Homo sapiens: one gene and its partners. The gene in region 1 interacts genetically with each later gene. Each region holds a gene or a part of one and is shown on either strand. Other genes may lie near its edges. The genes, in order: TIPIN, TIMELESS, NAA50, POLE2, FIP1L1, RBBP8 and DHODH.

What was found.
Region 2: changes in TIPIN (region 1) and TIMELESS together harm fitness more than expected from each alone (negative genetic interaction), as found in Homo sapiens cells (one large-scale study listed by BioGRID).
Region 3: changes in TIPIN (region 1) and NAA50 together harm fitness more than expected from each alone (negative genetic interaction), as found in Homo sapiens cells (one large-scale study listed by BioGRID).
Region 4: changes in TIPIN (region 1) and POLE2 together harm fitness more than expected from each alone (negative genetic interaction), as found in Homo sapiens cells (one large-scale study listed by BioGRID).
Region 5: changes in TIPIN (region 1) and FIP1L1 together harm fitness more than expected from each alone (negative genetic interaction), as found in Homo sapiens cells (one large-scale study listed by BioGRID).
Region 6: changes in TIPIN (region 1) and RBBP8 together harm fitness more than expected from each alone (negative genetic interaction), as found in Homo sapiens cells (one large-scale study listed by BioGRID).
Region 7: changes in TIPIN (region 1) and DHODH together harm fitness more than expected from each alone (negative genetic interaction), as found in Homo sapiens cells (one large-scale study listed by BioGRID).

What each region holds. Positions count from the first base shown.
Region 1 is NC_000015.10:66,343,186-66,346,685, forward strand, and holds part of TIPIN (TIMELESS-interacting protein), read right to left. Parts: intron 1-3,500.
Region 2 is NC_000012.12:56,439,427-56,442,926, reverse strand, and holds part of TIMELESS (protein timeless homolog), read left to right. Parts: intron 1-3,500. UniProt on the Homo sapiens protein: Plays an important role in the control of DNA replication, maintenance of replication fork stability, maintenance of genome stability throughout normal DNA replication, DNA repair and in the regulation of the circadian clock.
Region 3 is NC_000003.12:113,719,104-113,722,249, reverse strand, and holds part of NAA50 (N-alpha-acetyltransferase 50), read left to right. Parts: intron 1-312; coding exon 313-490; 3' UTR 491-3,146. UniProt on the Homo sapiens protein: N-alpha-acetyltransferase that acetylates the N-terminus of proteins that retain their initiating methionine. Has a broad substrate specificity: able to acetylate the initiator methionine of most peptides, except for those with a proline in second position.
Region 4 is NC_000014.9:49,678,215-49,681,714, reverse strand, and holds part of POLE2 (DNA polymerase epsilon subunit 2), read left to right. Parts: intron 1-1,914; coding exon 1,915-1,990; coding exon of another isoform or gene 1,991-1,994; intron 1,995-3,205; exon of another isoform or gene 3,206-3,407; intron 3,408-3,500. UniProt on the Homo sapiens protein: Accessory component of the DNA polymerase epsilon complex. Participates in DNA repair and in chromosomal DNA replication.
Region 5 is NC_000004.12:53,380,641-53,384,140, reverse strand, and holds part of FIP1L1 (pre-mRNA 3'-end-processing factor FIP1), read right to left. Parts: intron 1,864-3,500; coding exon 1,806-1,863; intron 369-1,805; coding exon 265-368; intron 1-264.
Region 6 is NC_000018.10:22,939,828-22,943,327, forward strand, and holds part of RBBP8 (DNA endonuclease RBBP8), read left to right. Parts: intron 1-3,500. UniProt on the Homo sapiens protein: Endonuclease that cooperates with the MRE11-RAD50-NBN (MRN) complex in DNA-end resection, the first step of double-strand break (DSB) repair through the homologous recombination (HR) pathway.
Region 7 is NC_000016.10:72,018,744-72,022,243, forward strand, and holds part of DHODH (dihydroorotate dehydrogenase (quinone), mitochondrial), read left to right. Parts: intron 1-2,380; coding exon 2,381-2,568; intron 2,569-3,500. UniProt on the Homo sapiens protein: Catalyzes the conversion of dihydroorotate to orotate with quinone as electron acceptor. Required for UMP biosynthesis via de novo pathway.

The DNA of each region.
Region 1 (3,500 bases):
AAGATTCTACAAAATAACAAAATGCCTGTAGGTAGAATAGAAGCACAAGCAAAAAATAAAAAAAACAGCAGAGCTGACACTTTACCTTCTATCTACATCATCCATATTATGAAATTAAAAGAAAGATAAACCCCATCACATCTGACAAGTTGGTCAAAAAATTCAAGTCACCATTTGAAATATTTATATACATTATCCTTGTTCTATGTATATATTATGCCTTGAAATATTAGCTAATTATAGAAAAACTATCACAATTAAAAAAACATTTAAAACATAAAGACAGACCTTTACAATTATTTCAGTGAGATTTAAAAATCATGATACTTAATTCAGCCCTTTACAATCAAACTCCCTTTTAAGGTTTCTTCCTTAATAGTGAAAAACGAAAAGCCACTTTTCCTTCCTGACATGGAAAACAAAAATGTAGGAAGAAACTAAAATGGCCTCCATTGTCAGGAAATACTGATAAGAGTATATGTATGAAACATTGCTGAAGCAGTTAAGAAACAAGCATTAGAGCCACTTATGAGCCAGGCGCAGTGGCCCACACCTGTAATCCCAGCACTTTTGGGGGCCGAGGCAGGCAGATCACCTGAGGTGAGGAGTTCAAGACCAGTCGGACCAACATGGTGAAACCCCGTCTCTACTAAAAATACAAAATTAGTCGGGCATGGTGGCACATGACTGTAATCCCACCTACTCAGGAGGCTGAGGCAGGAGAATCACTTGAACCCGGGAGGCAGAGGTTGCAGTGAGCCGAGATCACACCACTGCACTCCAGCCTGGGCAACAAGAGTGAAACTCCGTCTCAAAAAAAGAACCACTTATGAAACATGGGGTTTTTAATGTGCTTCATCTTACAGGGTTGCAGGATTCTAAATCAATAAGAAAATACATAAATAACTACTTTTTTTTTGTTTTTTTCAAGAGATGGGGACTCACTCTGTCACCCAGGCTAGAGTACAGTGGTATGATCATAGCTCACTCCAGCCTCAAACTCCTTGGACTCAAAGGATCCTCCTGCCTCAGCCTTCTAAATAGCTGGGACTATAGGTGTTGACCACTCTGGTCCCTAACTCCTGGCTTCAAATGAACTCAAAGAACTAATTTTGACTGGACAAGGTGGCTCACGCCTGTAATCATGGCCCTTTGGGAGATTGAGGCAGAAGGATTGCTTGAGAACAAGAGTTCAAGACCAACATCACCAACATAGCAAGACCTCGTCTCTATTACAAAAAAAAGTAAAAAAAAAAGCAAAAAACTACTTTTTATGAACCAAGAAAACAAAGGTATCTTCAGTAGTAAATGACCTATTTATATAAACAATATATTTTGTAAGCAGCAGCTGGTTCCTTTGAGTAGGATTAAAATGAGATTTAAAGCTGGGTGCAGCAGCTCACGCCTATAATCCCAGCACTTTGGGAACCCAAGGTGGGAGGATCACATGGACCCAGGAGTTTGAGACCAGCCTGCAAAACATAGGGAGACCCTTTCTCTACAAAAAAAAAAAGAAAAAAAAAAAAAAGAAAAACTTGGGCAGGCAGGTGGTGCATGCCTGTAATCCAAACTACTCAGGAGACTGAGGTGGCAGGATTGCTTAAGCCCTGGAGGTCGAGGCTGCAGAGCTATGATCATGCCACTGTGCTCCACCCTGGGCAACAGAGTGAGGCCCTGCCTCGAAAAGAAATAAGTAAATAAAAATGAAATTTTAAAAAATTAGAAGTACGCATGAAATTCATTTACTGCAACATTCATTGGCAAGTGATTATGGCAAAGAAGCTAAAGCTAGAAATATTCAGTGTGTTACAGGATGCCGTCATTGTAGTAAAGACAAACTAAAACATAAGTAAACTATATAAAAATTAAAGGGAAACAAGGGCAATGCAAAAGGAAACAGCATAGGGGAGTCAGAAATGATGGGAGTGGGGATGCAACTATAACAGTGTAATGGGGAGGCTTCACCAAGTTGTCATTTGAGCACAGTTTGAGGAGTGTAAGACAGTCATGCGGACTTGAGGGGTACAAGGGAAGAGTGTTCCAGGCAGAGTACGGCAATACAAAAGCCTTAGAATAAAAATGTGCCTGAAATGTCCAAGGAACAGCTGGAGGCCAAGCACAGTGGCTCACACCTGTAATCCCGGCACGTTGGGAGGCCAAGGCAGACTGTTTGAGGCCAGGAGATACAGACCAGCTTGGGCAACATAGTGAGATCCTGTCACTACAAAAACTAAATTTAGGCCGGGCACAGTGGCTCACTGGCTCACGCCTGTAACTCTAGCACTTTGGGAGGCCAAGGCAGGTGGATCAACTGAAATCAGGAGTTTGAGACAAGCCTGGCCAACGTGATGAAACCCTGTCTCTACTAAAAATACAAAAATTAGCCAGGTGTGGTGGTGCACACCTGTAATCCCAGCTACTGGGAGGCTGAGGCAGGAGAATCACTTGAACTGAGGTGGAGGTTGCAGTGAGCCGAGATCGCACCACTGCACTCCAGCCTAGGCAACAGAGTGAGACTCCGTCTCAAAAAAAAAAAAGTACATTACAAATCACATCCGTATAGAAGTAAATGTATTTAATCAACAAATAAAATGGTCAAAACATTTTTACTTCTGTGGCACCTGATCAAAAAAATTTGGAGACTATTAAGATACAAATTAAATATATGACACAACAAACAAAAATCTCAGATTCAGTTCTCTTATTTGTACCCTATATTTCAGCATGCTTGTAATTCTCTGAATGGTCCATGTTAATTTATCTCCTTTTTTTTTTTTTGAGACAGAGTTTCACTCTTTTTGCCCAGGCTGGAGTGTAATGGCGCAATCTCGGATCACTGCAACCTCCGCCTTCCGGGTTCAAGCAATTCTACTGCCTTAGCCTCCCGAGTAACTAGGATTACAGGCATGTGCCACTACGCCAGGCTAATTTTTTGTATTTTTAGTAGAGATGGGGTTTCACCATGTTGGCCAGGCTGGTCTCGAACTCCTGGCCTCAAGTGATCCGCCCGTCTTGGCCTCCCAAAGTGCTAGGATTACAAGCGTGAGCCACTGCGCCTGGCCTTAATTTATCTTTTTTTTTTTTTTTTTTTACTGCCATAGAATATAGAGCCTGAAATCCAAGTTAATTTACACCTCTGCATAGATGGCTCCCCCATTCAAAATCACCTCTGCCTGACCTCTACTGTTCATTCAAAATACTTTTTTTCTTTTTAATTTCTTTTTTCTTCCTCTCACCCCCAAATCAAAATTCTTCTGAATCCTCCTTTGTGAAGTTCTCCCTCTACCCCCAGGGACATGTAACTATGCTCTCCTTTGCATCCCACCCTGCGACCTACTCATACCTCTAATTACAACACCTACCACACTACTGGCAATGTTGTATGTCTGATTCATTCACTACTGTATTTGCCCACAAAGGGGCCTGATCGTAGTCATTTTTTTAGCCCTGAACCTTTATCACATACCGGGCACCTCAAAAAGTAACCCAGTAGTATATGC
Region 2 (3,500 bases), on another chromosome or scaffold:
ATTGGGGAAGTGATAAATGTCCATGAAATCTTCATAATTTATGTTCACAGATTGCAGTAAAGACAGGCGTAATAAATTATGAAAGTATTAATTTGGGGAACTAATAAATGTCCATGAAATCTTCACAATTTATGTTCTTCTGCTGTGGCTTCAGCCGGTCTCTCCATTCGGGGTCCCTGACTTCCCGCAACATCATCTATCTTATATCACTATAGAGGGTCGTTTGGTTTTCTCCAGCACATCTGGGCCTAGATTTGAATTGAAGTCTAGGAAGCAGATGGTTGCATTGATCTGAGGTTATGTATGGTCTTTTGCAGGGTGAGTGCACTGAAAGGAAAAGAGATAGAGGCCACACGGGAAAATGGCCAAACTGATGTATATAGTGATACAGTAGTAGGATATGTGTGACCCTGGTTTGATCATTTTGTTTTCTAGCTCAGAAATCTTCAGTGGCTCCCTGGCTTAGGTTCTAAATCTTTGAACTGATGGACAAAGATGAGGTTTTTCCCATAAAGCTGGTTCCAGCTGCTTTTCCATTGCTTTCCTGTTGGACTCATCTATTCATAATGGCTCCCTCTTTGGTTTTGCACTGGCAGTTCTCTGCTTAAATGCCCATCCTATTCCCAGCTGCCTTAATCCTATGCAGCTTTCAAAGGCCCAGTTCTAATCATGCTTCCTCAGACAAAACCTCCTTGACCACTTTAACCTGAAAAGAGTACTAGTTTTTTAGTTTTTTTCAGTATCACGTATTTAGAGCTTGTACTGCCTTATCTTTTACATTGTTTGTTCTATATTTGTGGATTTTATTTCTGCAACTACATTTCTTTTTTTTTTTTTTTTTTTGAGACGGAGTCTCACTCTGTCGCCCAGGCTGGAGTGCAGTGGCACGATCTCAACTCACTGTAACCTCCACCTCCCTGGTTCAAGTGATTCTCCTGCCTCAGCCTCCCGAGGAGCTGGGATTACAGGCACCCGCCACCACACCTGACTAATTTTTTGTTAGTTTTAGTAGAGACGGGGTTTCATCATGTTGGCCAGACTAGTCATGAACTCCTGACTTTGTGATCCACCCGCCTTGGCTTCCCAAAGTGCTGGGATTACAGGCGTGAGCCACCGCGCCTGGCCTCTGCATCTACATTTCTTAAATTTCTTTAGCGCTACCATTGCACCTGCACGCTATCTTTTGCCAGGAAGGTTCTCCCTAAGCATTTAGTAACTGACTATAGAGTCTGACAGATGGAGAGGAAATTAATATTTGGGGCGGGGGAGGGGTTCTGTTTGTTTTGTTTATTTGTCTTTTGAGACAGGGTCTCACTCTGTTACCCAGGCTGGAGTGCAGTGGCACAATTTCAGCTCGTTGCAACTTCAACCTCCTGGGCTCAAGTGATCCTCCTGCCTTAGCCTCCTGGGTAGCTGGGACTAAAGGTGTACATCAGCATGCCCGGCTGATTTTTGTGTTTTATTTTTTGTGGAGACTGGGCTTCGCTATGTTGCCCAGGCTGGTCTCAAACTCCTGGACTCAAGTGATCCTCCCACCTCAACCTCCCAAAGTATTAGTATTACAGGCGTGAGCCACCATGTCCAGCCAGGGATTCTTACTTTGTGCTCAGCACTGGGTAGAGTGCTTAATATCACTGCTTCTCAAACTGTCTTGGTAAAGGACCAGGTAGATTTTTCCCTCAAGCTGTTGCAGATCAGTAGTGTTCTAAAAGCACTTCTGTAAAATAAAATTACTAGAAAAATAACATTTAAAAAGACATAGAGAATACAGGCTTTTTATTATTATCATCATTAGATTCAACAAACATTGGCTGGGTGCAGTGGCTCATGCCCGTAATCCCAGCACTTTGGGAGGCCGAGGTGGGTGGATCACTTGAGGCCAGGAGTTCAGCAGCCTAGGCAACATGGCGAAACCCCATCTCAACTACAAAACACAAAAAAATTAGCCTGGCATGGTGGCACAGGCCTGTAATCCCAGCTACTTGGGAGGCTGAGGCACGATAATAGTTTGAACCCGGGAGGCAGAGGTTACAGTGAGCCAAGATCACGCCACTGCATTCCAGCCTGGGTGACAGAGGGAGACCCTGTCTCAAAACAAAACTGTAAACTGCCTGTCAAATTGCCCTAAGATGTTCTAAGTGCTAATGCTTTCTTTCTGTACTTACCTTGATGCAGACTGCTAATAGTTTGTGGATTGGCAGTGGTCTGAAGACCAAGGTTTGAGTAGCATTGCTTTACATGATCTCATTTACACTTCCCTAATATCTTGTGAGGGTGGGTATTATTATTATTTCCTCAGTATACTGATAAGGAAAGAGATTTAGTTAAGCCACCTGCTCAAGTTCACCAGTTTAGTACCAGACAGAATTGGAATTCAAGTGCTAGATGCCATTTTGTTCATACTACTGGGTCTCAAAGAGGATCCTTGGAGCAGAGTTGGTTTGGGGCAGGTAGAGTGTTTTGTTTCGTCTTCAAAAAGTAAGTTTATTTGGTCGGGCGCAGTGGCTCATGCCTGGTATCCCAGCACTTTGGGAGGCCCAGGTGGGCAGATCATGAGGTCAGGAGTTTGAGACCAGCCTGGCCAATATGGTGAAACCCCATCTCTACTAAAAATACAAAAATTAGCTGGGCATGGTGGCGCGTGCCTGTAGTCCCAGCTACTTGGGAAGCTGAGGCAGAAGAGTTGCTTGAATCCAGGAGGTGGCGGTTGCAGTGAGCTGAGATCGTGCCACTGCACTCCAGCCTGGGCGACAGAGCAAGACTCTGTCTCAAAAAAAAAAAAAAAAAAAAAAAGGTTAATTTGAATTGCAAATACATTTAATATTTTATCTGTTGTTTTCTTTTGGTTCTTGCATTTTAATGCCTCCAAGTATTGATTTCAGATGCATATTGCTTCATCTGAACTGCTTGATACTTAGTTGAGTAGGAAAAGTAACTAACATCCCTTTTAAATGTCCAGTTCCATTGGCTCTGTGGTGTTTGACAAAGTTCTCACCTGGTCTATGATGAAATGTGAAAATAAAGTCAATGTAATGAATTTTTTCATGAAGTCATATTTATTAAATTTGAAGGACAGTATTTTATCCTGAGATTTTTGTCTGTAGTTTTTTTGGTGTTAAAATGGTAGAAACAGAATGCGTATAGTAATTGTGTGGAGTGTTGTTTATAACGGCTGTTTGAGATATAATTCATATACTGTAAAATTCACCCTTTTAAAGTGTACAATTCAGGCTAGGTGTGGTGGTTCACACCTGTAATCTCAGCACTTTGGGAGGCCAAGGCAGGAGGATTGCTTGAGGCCAGTCAGGAGTTTGAGACCAGTGTGGGCAACATAGGGAGGTACCAGCTCTACACAAATTTAAAAATTAGCCAGATGTGGTATTGAATGCCTGTGGTCCCAGCTGCTTGGGAGGCTGAGGTGGGAGGATTGCTTGGGCCAAGGAGTTGAGGCTATAGCGAGTCATGATTGATCTGTACTCCAACCTGGGCTGGTCAACAGA
Region 3 (3,146 bases), on another chromosome or scaffold:
TTAATAGGGCCTTTTAATAATTTATCCTCTTACAGTGAAAAAATTTTGATAGCTGTGGTACTTTTCCCTTTGTTGACTACAAGAATAAACACTGAGCCTTCTAATCTCAGCCAGCTGTCTTACAAATGTAAAAATTAGATTAAAAGTGTAAAATTGTCATCAAAAGGTTTTAGGTAAGCATGCCTAACCCTTGTTGATTACTGGTAGTTGTAAAGAGAATGTAACAGATGTTTGGAGCTATCTGTGGAGAATGCTTAAAACTTGATGAAACCTTAATTTTAATTTTTTTTCTGATACTCTCTTATATCTCAGGCATGTCCAGATCAGCAATGAGTCGGCAATTGACTTCTACAGGAAGTTTGGCTTTGAGATTATTGAGACAAAGAAGAACTACTATAAGAGGATAGAGCCCGCAGATGCTCATGTGCTGCAGAAAAACCTCAAAGTTCCTTCTGGTCAGAATGCAGATGTGCAAAAGACAGACAACTGAACAAATTACAAATGAACTTTCTTGCACTTGCTTGTCGCCAAATAAAAGAGAGGCCCATTGATTCCTCCCCCACCCCAACACTTTTCTTTTAAAGCTTTTCTCCCTCCTTGTTCTTGTTTTTCTTTCTTCCTTTCCTTTTCTCTGAGAGTTTTAATACTTTCAAGGACTTTAAAAAAATAATCATGTTTGAATTGTTTTCTCTTATTTTTGTGAGGTGGTTTGAAGGAAGGACAAGGTAGATCTGTTTAGTTTTGCAGTTGAAGTTAGATGGTCCTAAACATTTAATTGTCAAATAATTTCAAATTTAATGTCCTGCTTTCACATTGAAGGGCAGAGCCTACAAAACATTGTATATTTCAAAAGACAAAAAGAAGCAGCAGCAGTATCTTGTTCTCTAATTCATAGACAAGTTGAGTGTGTTTGTGGTACTTTGGGTTTTTAAACACTTTGGGATACTAATCCCTAGACATTGCCTTCACTCCACCTTTAGTCCTTCTGAGCACTCTCTCGGGAGTTGGAACATTGTTATCCTTGTAAGAAATACTAAGCTTATGTTGATTTTTAAGTAATTATATCTTCTCTTCTTGCTGGTGGGTGGGGCAGTTTGGTTTAGTGTTATACTTTGGTCTAAGTATTTGAGTTAAACTGCTTTTTTGCTAATGAGTGGGCTGGTTGTTAGCAGGTTTGTTTTTCCTGCTGTTGATTGTTACTAGTGGCATTAACTTTTAGAATTTGGGCTGGTGAGATTAATTTTTTTTAATATCCCAGCTAGAGATATGGCCTTTAACTGACCTAAAGAGGTGTGTTGTGATTTAATTTTTTCCCGTTCCTTTTTCTTCAGTAAACCCAACAATAGTCTAACCTTAAAAATTGAGTTGATGTCCTTATAGGTCACTACCCCTAAATAAACCTGAAGCAGGTGTTTTCTCTTGGACATACTAAAAAATACCTAAAAGGAAGCTTAGATGGGCTGTGACACAAAAAATTCAATTACTGTCATCTAATGCCAGCTGTTAAAAGTGTGGCCACTGAGCATTTGATTTTATAGGAAAAAATAGTATTTTTGAGAATAACATAGCTGTGCTATTGCACATCTGTTGGAGGACATCCCAGATTTGCTTATACTCAGTGCCTGTGATATTGAGTTTAAGGATTTGAGGCAGGGGTAATTATTAAACATATTGCTTCTATTCTTGGAAAAATAGAAGTGTAAAATGTTAATAATACAAATGTCACTGTGACCTCCTCCACTGAGAGGACTGGTTTATGCCAGATCATTTTCCGGCACACACGGAGTGGCTTTGACAGATTGATAACTTTGTAAGATGGGAGACATCTGAAATATTCATGTTTTCCTTTTGTAGTCCCATCTCCACTATTTAGAAATGTTCTCAGACTTTAAAATAATGCACAGGGCTTGAGCTTTCTGTCATTTGACTTTAAAAGGAAGTTTCATTCATATTTATCCTCTTATGTAAAATTGCGGTATAAAGTCTCATTTCCAAATATGTTAAATGACAAAATTATTTTATAAAATGTTTATGCACACTTTATAACCTTAAGTTTTTATTTGAGAATGTGAAAGTACAAAGTGCAGTAGACTTCAACAATCTTGAGTGCCAAGAATAATACAGAAAAAGAAGACAGTTGATGAATGAGTTTATAGGGTTCTAATCTTAAGATGGTAAAAATGTAGAAAGACCTTGCTGGTTTTTTGGGGGTATTCGTTTCTTAAACAATCCAAATCTAAGCTTAGAAGAAAAGTTTAGCGTTAAGCACCTTTATCTTCATGAATAAGCTTCAGCTTGCTCTTGGCAAGAGAAGAGTGCTTGAGTTACAGAAGGCATAAGTAGTTTGAAGAATGCAGCAGCCTTTTTGTAAACTTCCCAGATATCAAAATAGACTTTGATATATAAATGGTTTTCTGAGATGACACTGCCTCTATTTCTATAACCATTTCACCTGGACTATCTAATCAGTCCTATGAATGTATCCCTAAATGTGGTTATTGAAAACCTAATAGCTGCCTCATGACAAGTACATGTTATTTAAGGAGGAAAAAATATTAAATTTTGAATTGAGTGTGTAGGCTCCCTATCATTATATATAGAGTTTCTTTTTCCACGGTAGTCAGTGACTTAACCTGAATTGTAAATGTTTGTAAAGGGTTAATTGTCCTACATCAAACTTAGTTAAATAATTCCATCCACTTATGGAGGAGGAGGAGAATGTGGAAGAGGTAAAAAGCTGGGCACAAGTTCATATGCCTATGAGTCAGTAAAGACTGAAGTAATGTCCTATGTTGAGCTGGTTATTTTGATATATGATAATAATTATCTTTGAAGTAGAACAATTCTGTTAACTGGAAAATCACAGGATATATCCATCATATTTTTCAGGACAGATAGTTTTTACTGTGGGGCAAATAGGTTAAAATTACACTATGTTAGTTGCATTTAGGTTTTAAAGCAAAGAATCTGTAGAGAAATCTATGCAATATATAGTTTGTCCAGATTAGCTTTCATTTGGGGAATGAAGTTCTGAAATATCTAAAGCAGTTTACTCATCAATTGAAAAGTCCTCCAAAAAGAGAACTATTGGGAAACCATGGTGTGGTGGTGGAAAAGAAAAGCTCCCTCAGTTTTTTGGAGGGAAT
Region 4 (3,500 bases), on another chromosome or scaffold:
GCAGCCTCTGCCTCCCGGGTTCAAGCGATTCTTCTGTCCCAGCCTCCTGAGTAGCTGGGACTACAGGTGCGTGCCACCACACCAGGCTAATTTTTATATTTTTGGTAGAGACAGGGTTTCACCATATTGGTCAGGCTGGTGTTGAACTCCTGACCTCAGGTAATCCACCCACCTTGGCCTCCCAAAGTGCTGGGATTACGGGCGTGAGCCACCACACCTGGCCCCTCCTCTCTTTCTTCATGTTCTTTTTTGGAAAGTCACATCTGTTGAAACATGCCCAAAGAAGCTAGAATGGGGCCACCAATACATGAACTAAACCTCTGTTCCAGTTTTTTATGATTTGCAGTCCATTTCAGCCATATACTTCGGGGAGTTTTCTGAGACACCTCTCTATTCAACCTGTCAGTAAAACTGTATCAGCATGTTTCCTCTTGCCACTGCCACACTGCCATAGGGATTCAGGGACCTTTTTGTTAAATACTTAATACCACAAGCATGGGACTGGAAAGAAGAAATGCTCTTCCCCTTGGAAAAAAAGTCTGATATTTATAGCACCCTGAGGATAGAAGTGGGTATGGCTCACTGTCCACTTTATCTTAGCATAAAAGGCTGAGAAGTGCCGAGTTCACTCTTAATGTTATATAGATGCTAGTCACTTCAATTATATAGGAAGAAACATACTCCGTGATACAGGATAAATGGTTATTATATCTCATTTTCATTCCTAAAGGCAGAATTTTACATATACCTTTGCTTAAAAAATTCCTTTACAGTTGAACATTTAGAAACTGATACTTGTCTCACGCCTGTAATCGCAGCATTTTGGGAGGCTGAGGCGGGCGGATCACGAGGTCAGGAGATCGAGACCATCCTGGCTAACACAGTGAAACCCCGTCTCTACTAAAAATACAAAAAATTAGCTGACAGAGCGAGACTCCGTCTCAAAAAAAAAAAAAAGAAAATGATACTTGTCCCTGTGTACATTGATTTAAGATGGCACATGGTATTTTGCTTGACAACATATCAAAGTGATTAAAAGAGCCCCCACTGGAATCAGTCCTGGGTTTTTGTTGCTCTCTATCTCTTCTAGTTTTTGGGCAAAATTTTCAACCTCTTAAAGTTGTATTTTCCCTATCTATAAGATATGGGCATCTTAACATCAGTCTTACAGGACATCTACCCAGTGGAATAATACTTGTAAATAAAGTACTGAGGATGGTGCCACACATTTACTCAATGCTTAATAAGTGGTAGCTGCTATTGTTACTATCATGCTCATTGAAACTGAGCAGTTATGATGATAAAGTTATACTAATGTAACCTTATTAAAACTGGGAGCTTAGAGAATTTTTTTTTTTTTTGAGATAGTATCTCACTCTGTGTGGCCCAGGCTGGAGTGCCAGTGGCATGATCACAGCTCACTGCAGCCTCCACCTCCCTGGGCTCAGGTGATCCTCCCATCTTGGCCTCCTGAGTATCTGGGACTACAGGCATGTGCCACCACCCCCAGCTAAGTTTTATATTTTTTGTAGAGAAGGGGTTTCACCACGTTGTCTGGGCTGGTCTCAAACTCCTGGGCTCGAGCCATCCTCCTGCCTTGGCCTCCCAAAGTGTTAGGATTATAGGTGTGAGCCACCGACCCTAGCTCAGAAATGTTCTTATAACTAAACAGGGTTTAGAAAATTAAGGCATTTGACTGTATATTAAGGTATTGTAACTTTGAGTGTGGAAAATGAAGGTATTTGAGATAAGGCTTTTGTTATTGTTCTGACCTAACACTTTTTTTCTCCAAAAACTGTATAATGAGAATCTCAGTATTAATATTTGCAAATTATTTTTGGGAAAAGAGCTGTCTGTGGAAAGAACTATTTTTTTTTTTGTTTTTAAATTTTGACTTTGAAATTCTCTTTTCAGTGTCATCAAACATGATTGAACGATCTGTGGTGGAAGCAGCAGTCCAGGAATGCAGTCAGTCTGTTGATGAAACTATGTATGTGGGTACAGTTAACTTTTTTCCTCCTTGGAGGTGTTATTGAGCACTTATTTTTAATTATTGTCTTGGAAAATTATTAGTGATCAACGTTTCTACAGTGATTACTGTTGTTATTTCTGTGTGTCTTTTTAAATAATGGCTTTCTTTGCAAACCTCATTATTAAATGACTCATCTTTACTGGTTTTTCCTGGGATTTGAGGTTACAGTGTTGCTTGTACCATTCATTACTAACTTTTGCTGCCTACCCAACCGGTTGATCTGACTTTTTATTCTGTATGCTACAAATGAGTTGAATTGAAATGAATATTCAGAAGTATAATTTACTTTGCTCTTAGGAAAGTACCATGTCCAGAGAAGTTCAGCAACTTTACTTGGTCACATGGTGAATGGCAAATGAGGGTAGGACCTCAGTTTTGTGACTCCACTATGTCATGTTTTTAGGTTTAAGAATTTATATGGCAGTAATTCTTCTGGGTTTTATTTCTCTGAATATCCCTCTTTCCTCTTGATATGATACTTCTATACAAATTGATGGCATTTAACTGGAAGGAAAACACTGGGGAAAATGGGCTGAGAGACAGTTTTAACATTGCCACTTCTTTCCTATTTGGGGCAATGGAGATGATTGAAAGGAGTCATTATCTTTATTTTAGTCAGAAGTTATAATCTTCTCCCTGTCAGAACTTATAACTGCTAAAAAAAAAATAGAGAAATTGAGGATTTTTAATTTTACCCTTGCAAACTCATTTAAAATACTATAGTGTGACCAGATGCAGTGGCTTATGCCTGTAATCCCAGCACTTTGGGAGGCCAAGGTGGCTGGATCACTTGAGGTCAGGAGTTCAAGACCAGCCTGGCCAACATGGTGAAACCCATCTCTACTAAAAATACAAAAATTAGCTGGGCGGTAGTGGGGCGCACCTGTAATCCCAGCTACTTGGGAGGCTGAGACAGGAGAATTGCTTGAGCCTGCGAGGTGGTGGTTACAGTGAGCTGAGATCATACCACTGCACTCTAGTCTGGGCGACAGAGTGAGACTCTGTCTCAAAAAAAATACATAAAATAAATACTGGAGTATAATGAATGTTCCTAAAGCCATCAATAGAAATTCAAAATGATTGTACTGAAGTTTGATTATTATCCTAAAATAGACGTTACTCGTTGTTTACCCTAAAGTTACCTGTTATTTATTTATTTACTTATTTTCCCCCACACCAATCTGCATTCACTTTATTCTTCTGTTTATACATTCTCTTGCTCCCAGATTTGGAGGCAGAACGTAATATGAGCTCAACAGTCCTGCACAGAGCCATGTACCATATCGCATCAGTTTTCCTTTTCCCAACCCCTATTCCACCCCCACTCAGTAAAGCCCCTTGTCCAGGTGTTGCTCTTGGGGGTAAGAAAGCAGAAAAGCAGGCTGGGCGCAGTGGCTCATGCCCGTAATCCCAGCACTTTGGGAGGCCGAGGTGGGCAGATCACCTGAGGTCAGGAGTTCGAGACCAG
Region 5 (3,500 bases), on another chromosome or scaffold:
CTCTATGCCTGGCCTAGCACTCAATTCTTTTATAAAAACACTTTAAATTCAGCATCAAAAACTGCTGCTTCTATGTACCTTCGCCTAATCAATTAACTGTATTTTAGCAAAGAAGTATATTCATGATGAAACTTTAACAAGTTCTTTTATGTTAAAATAGAAAAATGTAAAAACAATGGACTCAACCACTGAGAGTTTGATATAGGCACACTCTCCTTACTATATAGCATTTACACAATTGTTACTTACTAAAAAATAACTTACCCATACTGTGGTGCTCCCGTTTTAATGTCTCCTATAGTGACATGAACATCATCTTCATCATCATCGCTGTCACTATCACTATCATCTTCGGTCTCAGTCACTTTCTACATGAACATAAACAAATTATAAAATACATTCAGTAATCCATTTCAACATCTAATACTAATAACTAAAAAAAGTAACCACCCTGTTTTTTTTTTTCTTTCTTCTGTCTTGAGACAGACTCTCACTTTGTCGCCCCGGCTTGAGTGCAGTGGCATGATCTCAGCTCACTGCAACCTCCACCTCCCAGGTTCAAGCAATTCTCCGGCCTCAGCCTCTAGAGTAGCTAGGATTACAGGTGCCCGCCACCATGCCCAACTAATTTTTGTATTTTTAGCAGAGACAGGGTTTCACCATGTTGGCCAGGCTGGCCTCGAACTCCTGACCTCAGGTGATCCACCCACCTTGGCCTCCCAAAGTGCTGGAATTACAGGCGTGAGCCACCATGCCCGGCCCCACTCTGTATTTTTTTGAGATACAATTTAAAAGTTACAAGCTTATAATGCTGCCACCTATTTCAACTCATAATTTTGATGTTCTACAGGATAAAAAGGATAAGACTATGAATAAAGAAATGAAATCTTTTTGGCATCATCTCCTTGTGGTAAACAACACCTCATTTTTTTTTTAACTATCATATCTGCCCCTCTTGCAAAAAGATCTAAAGCAACTTACTAAGATACCTACAAGATAAAATTATAAAAAATAAGTATTTGAGAAGTCTTGGCAAAAAAGAATCTAAGAGGAAAACAATTTTAAGATTCACAGTGTCACAAATACAATGTACCAAATCAATTAAAGAATTAAAAAAAAAAACCCCAAAGCATAAGAAGTACCAAATAGTTAAGTAGAAGCTCAGTTATTCTTGGTATTCTTGTATACCTAGAAGAGGCCCTACATGCAAATTCTATATTTGTGAAGATTTTACTTTGGCTCTTAAAGGCTATTTTGTGCTTAATCACATCATAGTAAATAAGTAGATCACATAGGCAAAATACTTTTTTGTATACAACTTCAAACTTCCGGAACAATAACTTCCTTCCTTTTATAGGATTAAAATGCACAAATATTCATAGGACCAATGATATGTTCACCTCACAAAGTATCAATGGCATGCAGGCATGCAGTCAGGGACTGTCACATACATTAAAAAGCAACGTTAAAAAATCGTAACAGTGAAAGGTTGTGGGCTCAAAACTTGCTCTGAAAACCAGGCTCACTATATTCAGTAGATTTATAACCATTCAATTCCTTGAAAGCAATAAACATCAAGCCTTTGCACATACTATTTTCCTCTGCAGTCTTTCTACTATTTCTTTTCCTCATTTTAATTCCTATATATGTTTTTGATGGCACCAGATGAAGTAGGAGATGTAAGAAAGGGCCAGATAACACCTGATACTGAAGGTAATGTAAAATGCCAGCTTGCTTTCTATGTAAACTGTGAAGCTATTGATAAAGATTTGTATCAGTAACTGGATTTCAAAGCCTTATGTTACCGGTTTTGGTACACCATTTTCAGCAGTTTCATCTTCAATTCCAGATGGAGGATTAGCACTACAAACAACAAAAGTAAGTATACATGTCAGGCATTACTTTTCGGAAGTACAGATAGATTATATTAGTATTTCTAAGCTTTAATAAAGCTCCTAAAATTATTGTCTCCACTGGAGACAGTAATGGTAAAATCTGACTGTCTTATTCCGTTATTTCTAGTAACTTGCAGAAGACAAGTACTCAACATTGTAAGTAGAATGCAAATGCCAGGCTGGGCGTGGAGGCTCATGCCTGTAATCCCAGCACTTTGAGAGGCTGAGGTGGGTGGATCACGAGGTCAGGAATTCAAGACCAGCCTGGCCAAGATGGTAAAACCCCGTCTCTACTAAAAATACAAAAAAAAAAAAATTAGCCAGGCATGGTGGCGGGCACCTGTAATCCCAGCTACTCGGAAGGCTGAAGCAGACAATTGCTTGAACCCAGGAGATAGAGGTTGCAGTGAGGCTGCAGTGATCATGCCACTGCACTCTAGCCTGGGCGACAGCGTGAGATGCTGTCTCAAAAAAAAAAAAAAAAAAAAAAAAGAATGCAAATGCCTTCACAGTTTATTAATGATTTATAATTTGATGGTGGGCTATAATTCAAGCTTTTTACACATTTTAAAAATATATGACAAACTTAATCAATTTTAATTATCCTAAATCAATTTGATCTTTACAGTGGCATTTTATAGCACAATCACCAAATAAAGCAAAATGAAAGATAAAAAGTCAAAACATAACTGTTATATTTTCATTGTTCTACTGCTTGCTTCAAGAAAACAAATATGCAGCTATAATTGTTCAGTACATTTACCTCCTGCTGAAATAAGCTTCTAGGTAGCCAGAAGCAAGTCCCATTTGCTTTCTACGTCACAAAACAGTATCCCTTCTTTAGTCAAAACTTGGATAGATATAACACAATTGGAGACTGCAATGCAATGTTTAAGAAAAACAGAGGCTTCAGCAATGAGCCAGTCAGTAGGAAACGGGCAAATTCTAATAGCAGGAACTTTGGTAGAGCAATGCAATGATGTACCAAGCCAGATAGCAGTAGGTCTGGCAGAGTACCTTTCTTCAATAGGCCTACTCTTTTGGAAGTTTTAATTTTCTATCACCATTAAAATGTTAGAAACATGATAAAATTTTAAGCTTTTTCTAGAAAAATAACACTGTAAAGGAAATTGTTTTTTCCCCCATAGGATGAAATCAACTCAACGGCTCCCCAAATGAAGTTGCAGAAAGGAATATAAAGCTATGTTGACAGTGACACTCAGGGAAGGTAGAAGGTTCCCTCCAATAAATTTTAGCAAGTTGTGTATTGCGGAATTAAAATTAAAGAATGTTTGATTAGAAAGTAAGCTTTTAAAATTGTAACCAATAAAAATAAAAATTAATGGGATAAAGATTATCATATAGAAAAGTATATTTGATTGTAAAACTATACCTGTAATTAATTTCTTGACCAACTGAAGGAATGGGTACAAAGAAATATTCAATCACTTTCATAACATAAACTAAAACTAATCTCAACTTTGTGGTTGAGATCAGAATTAGGAACTGAGTTGAATATATAAATTTTAAAATGAAATAACATTTCAGATAATATACCAATGAGTGAAAAGACTATAGGGGATTTTTTGGGTAAGGAAGCTGAAC
Region 6 (3,500 bases), on another chromosome or scaffold:
GTGGTTGCATGGGGAAGTGGGTTTGTGCATGGTTTATGTCAGACCAGGCTTGATAATTAAGTCTAATTAGCCAGGCAAGGAAGATGGTGGAAGGGGAGGGAATTTTCTGAGTAGAGAGAATAGCACATGCAAAAGTTTGCAGATAAGAGCTTGATTTTATTCAAGGAACTCTGGATAGTTAGGTTTAGTTCTAAGAGGAAATGGAATGGGAGATTGGAGTTTTGGGGGAGGTGGATAGGATATGATGCTAGAAATGTACATAGATCCAAATTATGTAAAATGGTATGTGCTATGCTGAAGAGATTGTCATCTTGCCTTGACTTTAGGACAGATTTCTCTATTTCTGCAAAAAATGTTGGGATTTTGGGATTTGGGATTTTGATAGGTAATGCATTGAATCTGTAGATTGCTTTATATAGTATTGACATCTTAACAATATTGTTTTGTAGTCCATGAACACGGGATACCTTTCTATTAGTGTCTTCTATATTTCTTTTTTTTTTTTTTTTTTGAGACAGAGTCTTGCTCTGTAGCCCAGGCTGGAGTGCAGTGGCGCGATCTCGGCTCACTGCAAGCTCCACCTCCTGGATTCATGCCATTCTCCTGCCTCAGCCTCCTGACTAGCTGGGACTACAAGCACCCGCCACCACGCCCGGCTAATTTTTTGTATTTTTAGTAGAGACGGGGTTTCACTGTGTTAGCCAGGATGGTGTCGATCTCCCGACCTCGTGATCCGCCCGCCTCAGCCTCCCAAAGTGCTGGGATTACAGGCGTGAGCCACTGCGCCCGGTCTATATTTCTTTTTAAGATTTTTTAATTTTTAATTACTAATTTTTAGAGATGAGGTCTTGCCTCATTGCCCAGGCTTGAGTGCAGTGGCACAATCATGGTTCGCCGTAGCCTCAAATTCCAGGGTGCAGGCAATCCTTCCGCTTCCACCTTCAGAGTAGCTAGGACTACAGGCATGCACCACCGAACCTGGCTAATTTATTTTTTTATAGAGACAGGGATCTCATTTTGTTGCCCAGGCTAGTCTCAACTCCTGGGCTCAAGCAGTCCTCTGACCTCATTGGCCTCCAAAAGTGCTAGGATTACAGGTGTGAGCCACCACACCTGGTCATTCTATAATTTCTTTCAGCAACATTTTCTGATTGTCATTGTACAAGTTTTTTGTCTCCTTGGTGAAATGTATTCTTAAGTATTTTATTCTTTTGATGCTACTGTAAATAGAATTGTTTTTTTAATTTGCTTTTCAGATTGTTCATTGTTAGTGTATAGAAATACAACTGGTTTTAGTGAGTTGATTTTATATTCTGCAACTTTCTTGAAACTCTTGATTTCTATTTTTGTTTTTTATGTTTTGAAACAGAGTCTCACTCTGTCACCCAGGCTGGAGTGCAGTGGCATGATCGCAGCTCACTGCAACCTCTGCCTCCCAGGTTGAAGCAGTTCTCCTGGCTCAGCCCCGCAAGTAGCTGGGACTACAGGCACGCACCACCACTCCTGGCTAATTTTTGTATTTTTAGTAGAGATGAGGTTTCACCATGTTGGCCAGGCTGGTCTTGAATTGCTGACCTCAAGCAAGCCGCCCATCTCGGCCTCCCAAAGTGCTAGGATTACAGGCAGGAGCCACTGTGCCTGGCTATTTATAAGCTATTAATTTAATAGAAATAAAATATTTGACAGATTTCTTCTTCCTATTCTTTGGTGTTACAGGATCTTCATGAAATCCCTATTTTACAGTGAGGAAGCATCAAGAAACAAATGGTATACTCTTTAATAGGAACAATATGCCATATTTATCAAATTATAGAATATATAAAGCTTGCAAATATTATGTAGTAGATAATTCCTTTAAAGTGTACTCCTCATGGTTATGTTCTAATCACATTCCCACAAAAGTTTCTATACTCTGAATAACTTTAAGGGAGGAATACAGTAATTGTTGGTGTATATGATAAGGTCCATGTGTTTTATGAATATTAGGTATTGGATATATGAGCTCATAAGAGAAGATAATCTTTGGTACGTTATATTGATCATGCCACTTTCCCAATTTCAAATAACTTATGGATTCTTAAAGGTATTAAATGAATAAGTACTATTTTTTAAGTAGATATGTCATTTTAAAACATTTTGGTTTGGGCCATGCCTTCGTCAATATGTTCCACATAGTTCCATATAAAATTAGAGTCTCTATATGATAACATCAAAGACATGCCTGAAGGGAACTTAATTTTTTTAAGGAGGTGGGGAATCCATTTGTAGAAACCAGTGTAAGAAGCTGTTTGAAAGACATCAAACATGGACTTGTCTGGACTTTGCAGGTTTTAAGGTATATATAGGAATCAAAATTGACTCATGACTTTTAAAGCTTCATGTCAGTAAAAAATAAAAGAGAAATGTTGGGAATGGTAATATTTGAGATATATAGTTTTTACTTAGCTACAGAAATGTACCCATAGGAACTTGCTTGAATCTGAATGCTCTGCTACACGTGTTTAGAATTATTTTTGCCTCTTTTGCCAAAACATAATAAAATGATAGCAAAATATGACAGTATGTGCACTGATCACAACAATATAATAAACTGCATCCATGTCTTTTAAAACTAGGCAAGAATAGACAAAATGCTCTAATTTCTGTTGGAGACTAGCAATATGCAAACCAGACCATTTTTGTTGAAAAATTCTGGAGACATTTATGACCGAGTTTTTATATCCTTTAAGATAATTTTATCCTTTCATGATTGTATCATTTCATGATATGTTCCTTTTGTGACAAATGCTGCTAGTATCAGTGTCACAGATTGTTACTGATGATATACAGTGTTTATGCTTTAAATTCCGAACTCACAGAATTTAATGGAAACTTCAGAATTCTTTAAATTTCAAAAGTTTTAAAGCATATTTATTTGGGTACAAAATTTTATTGCCTTTAAAAATCTTTTTCAGTATCAAGTTTATTATCAAAAGCACAAATAATAAAATAGAATTTAAAATATTTATTTTCAGAATACCACTATTTTAATAAATGATCTTTTGCCTATGCCAGCGTCTGCTATTAACATCTAGCTAATATATTTTCTGTGTCTAGTAAATATGGTAATCAGTTTCAAAGAAAACTAGGTAGGTTTTGTGAGGCAAAGTTGAAACACCTTGAAGAAATGGGAAAGTTTGGGGGCTCTAATAGGACAGGATAAATATTTCTTGATTCATTTTTTAATTGCTCCATTTATTTTCTATACATAGAATCAAAAATTCTAAAAAGAGAACATTATCTTAAGACTGCACAAATTAACAGTGAAAGGAATTGTCCCACTCATTATTAAGAATGCTGTCAGGCTGGGCACAGTGGCACACACTTGGGAGGCCAAGGCAGGAGGATTACTTGAGTCCGGGAGTCTGAGACCAGCCTGGACAACAAAGCGAGACCCTGTCTCTACAAAAAACATTTTTTTAATTAGCTAGGCATGGTGGTGTGTGCCTGTGGTCCCAGCT
Region 7 (3,500 bases), on another chromosome or scaffold:
GCCCTCTGGGGACAGAGTAATCCAGCAATTTCTGTCTAACTCCCAAATCTTGTCAGTTTGGGCAGATGACTCCTAATCCGTTAGCTACATGAAAGTGATATTCTCCTTCAAGTCAGTTTACTTGTGAGGAAAAGAATTCAAGCTTACAGATGATCTTGGCTTGATGGGTGCTAGACTGGGAAGCTTGGAGACCTTATGATAAACCTTTTGTCTAATTGGATTCTTTGTTTCTTTTGAGACAGAGTCTCCCGCTATTGCCCAGGCAACAGTGGTGCAATCTCAGCTCACAGTAGCCTCCACCTCCCAGGTTCAAGCGATTCTCCTTTCTCAGCCTCCCAAGTAGCTGAGATTATAGGCGCCCACCACCATGCCTGACTAATTTTTATATTTTTAGTAGAGACAGGGTTTCACCGTGTTGGCCAGGCTGGTCTTGAACTCCTGACCTCAATTGATCCACCCACCTCAGCCTCCCAAAGTGCTGGGATTACAGGCGTGAGCTGCTGCGCCCGGCTTCTAATTGGGTTCTGATCCCCTCCTCCAGTCCCCACCCTGGAAAGTAGCTACACTCATCTCATTTGCTGATGATGCGAGAGTGTGATTGGGGTTGGGAAGGTGGTGAGCAGTACAATAGATGTTGTTTGATCCTCTCTGGCCTGACAACACATTTTGTGAGCTACTTGGTGTTCTAATTCTTCCCCCAACTCTCAGATCAAAAGTACAGCCTGTACCATTGATGTACCACTCCCCGTGCAGATAAGATAGTAAACTTAGAAGAAGTCAAGTAGAGACAACCCGTTTCTTTTACACATAGTGTGTTTCTGAAAATGTATTTTTTCTGGAGGTCCAAAATGCAAGTCCATTGATAGTCCTGTGGATTTTTAAGTAAGCTGACCTAATTGCTTACATGTAAACTGAGACCCTCTTGAGAGTAAAAAGGGGCAGGTGTTAACAATGATGCCCAGGCTAGGGGAGTAATCAGGTTGTCCAGGGAGCACCTAAGATACAGGGTACCCTCAGTTATTATATGAGGGAGAGTCCCTTTCCTCAGAGAACTAAAATTATAAGTTAGAAAACAATTACACCTCTACATTTTAGGCATGATAATTGAAAACATTTGGCCGGGCATGGTGGCTCACGCCTGTAATCCTAACACTCTGGAAGGCCAAGGCAAGCGGATCATTTGAGGTCAGGGGTTTGAGACCAGCCTGGCCAACATGGTGAAACCCCTTCTCTACTAAAAATACAAAAATTAGGCCGGTTGCAGTGGCTCACGCCTGTAATCCCAGCACTTTGGGAGGCTGAGGTGGGCAGATCATGAGGTCTGGAGATGGAGACCATCCTGGCCAACATGGTGAAACCCCATCTCTACTAAAAATACAAAAATTAGCTGGGCGTGGTGGCACATGCGTGTAATCCCAGCTACTCAGGAGGCTGAGACAGGAGAATTGCTTGAATTCAGGGGACGGAGGTTGCAGTGAGCCAAGATTGTGCCACCACATTCCAGCCTGGGCAACAGTGAGACTCCATCTCAAAAAAAAAAACAAAAAACATTTTCCAGTATATATATATGTGTATATGTATATGTGTATATATATATATATATATATATATGTGTATATATATATATATTTTTTTTTTTTTTCTTTTTTTTGAGACAGAGTCTTGCTCTGCTCCTTAGGCTGGAGTGCAGTGGCGCGATCACGGTTCATTGGAGCCTCAATCCTACTTCAGCCTCCCGAGCAGCTAGGACTACAGGTGTGCACCACTGCTCCCGGCTGAGTTTTCAATTATAGAGATAGGGTTTCACCATGTTGCCCAGACTGGTCTTGAATTCCTGGGCTCAAGCAATCCTCTGCCCTTGACCACCCAAAGTGCTGGGATTATAGGCGTGAGCCACCGCACCTGGCCTGTTTTTCAGTATTTTATACATGTTCTTTCATTTTGTTTTTTCTTCGCAACTGTACATCCAGTCAACCGAGCCAAGGCCAACAAGCATTCCTTGAGGTGAGAGTTGCGGGCCTGATGTGCCTACTGAGTTCTCTCTGTTCTCAGTTTTATTCAATTTATGAGGCCCATCTTTTGCCCCACAAGTATTTGCAGTAATTTGTCCATTTTCCATGAAAATTTTAAAAATAAAAAGGGCAAAATGCAGCAAAACATCCTCGTAGCTGCCCAGACTTTGCTAGACAAAGCCAGTGAGTGGTTTTGGTCAGCAGGCGGGCCCAGGCCGCAGTTGAGCACCTGTCAGCCGGTGTCGGGCAGGTCAGGTTTGGAGGGAAGGCCTGCGCGGCTGTCCACAGGTGGTTTGGTCAAGGGCAGCCTCAGAAGGTGGCACAGGAAAGGGTGTGCGGGGTGCAGGCCTGACCAGCGATGTTTGCAGATGGACTGCCTCTGGGGGTCAACTTGGGGAAGAACAAGACCTCAGTGGACGCCGCGGAGGACTACGCAGAAGGGGTGCGCGTACTGGGCCCCCTGGCCGACTACCTGGTGGTGAATGTGTCCAGCCCCAACACTGCCGGGCTGCGGAGCCTTCAGGGAAAGGCCGAGCTGCGCCGCCTGCTGACCAAGGTGGGCAGCTGCACCCCTCTCCAGGCCCTGTCCCACCAGCCTGTCCCACCTGCTCCCCTTCATTCTCCAGGGCGAACCTTCAGCATCACCCTCAGAAGCTGTCCTTAGCACCTAGACCAGTAGGACCCCTGGCTATACCTTCCCAGAGTCCCCTCTGATCCCCTCTCATGACACTGATTATATGCGACGGTGACAAATTATCTGTCCCTGCTGCTATAAATCACGGGGTCTGTAAGAGCAGACACCACGTCTCTCTCATTTGTCACTCTGACCCTAGCGCCCAGAGCTCTGAGTGAACTGAAGGACTTCATCACCCAGTACATGTGGTAATATTTCCTGGTTATCTTTTAGGAATAAAAGTCTAAAAAACGTTGGACACCGTGGCTCATGCCTGTAATACCAGCACTATGGGAGGCCAAGGCAGGTGGATCACTTATAACCCAGGAATTTGAGACCAGCCTGGGCAAAAGAGCAAGACCCTGTCTCTACAAAAATTTAAAAATTAGCCAGGCACAGTGGCTCAAGCCTATAGCCCCAGCTACTTGGAGGCCGAGGCAGGCAGATCACTTGAGCTCAGGAGCTGACCAGCCTGGGCAACTTGGCAAAACCCCATCTTACAAGAAATACAGAAATTAGCTGGGCATGGTGGTGCACACCTGTAGTCCCTGATACTCTGGAGGCTGAAGTGGAAGGATCGCCTGAGCCCAGGGAGGTGCAGGCTACAGTGAGCCGTGATCATGCTACTACACTCCAGTGTGGGTGACAGAGTGCGACCTTGTCTCAAAAAAAAAAAAAAAAAAAGAAAAGAAAAGTCTAAAACACCCTTGAGCTATTAGCCAATGTCCACGGGATCCCTTGGCCTAAAAGAATGGAATCGGATCCATCTCGACTGTACTCCTCACGTCTGAGGGCTGGCTTTCCTGAAAAGAAAT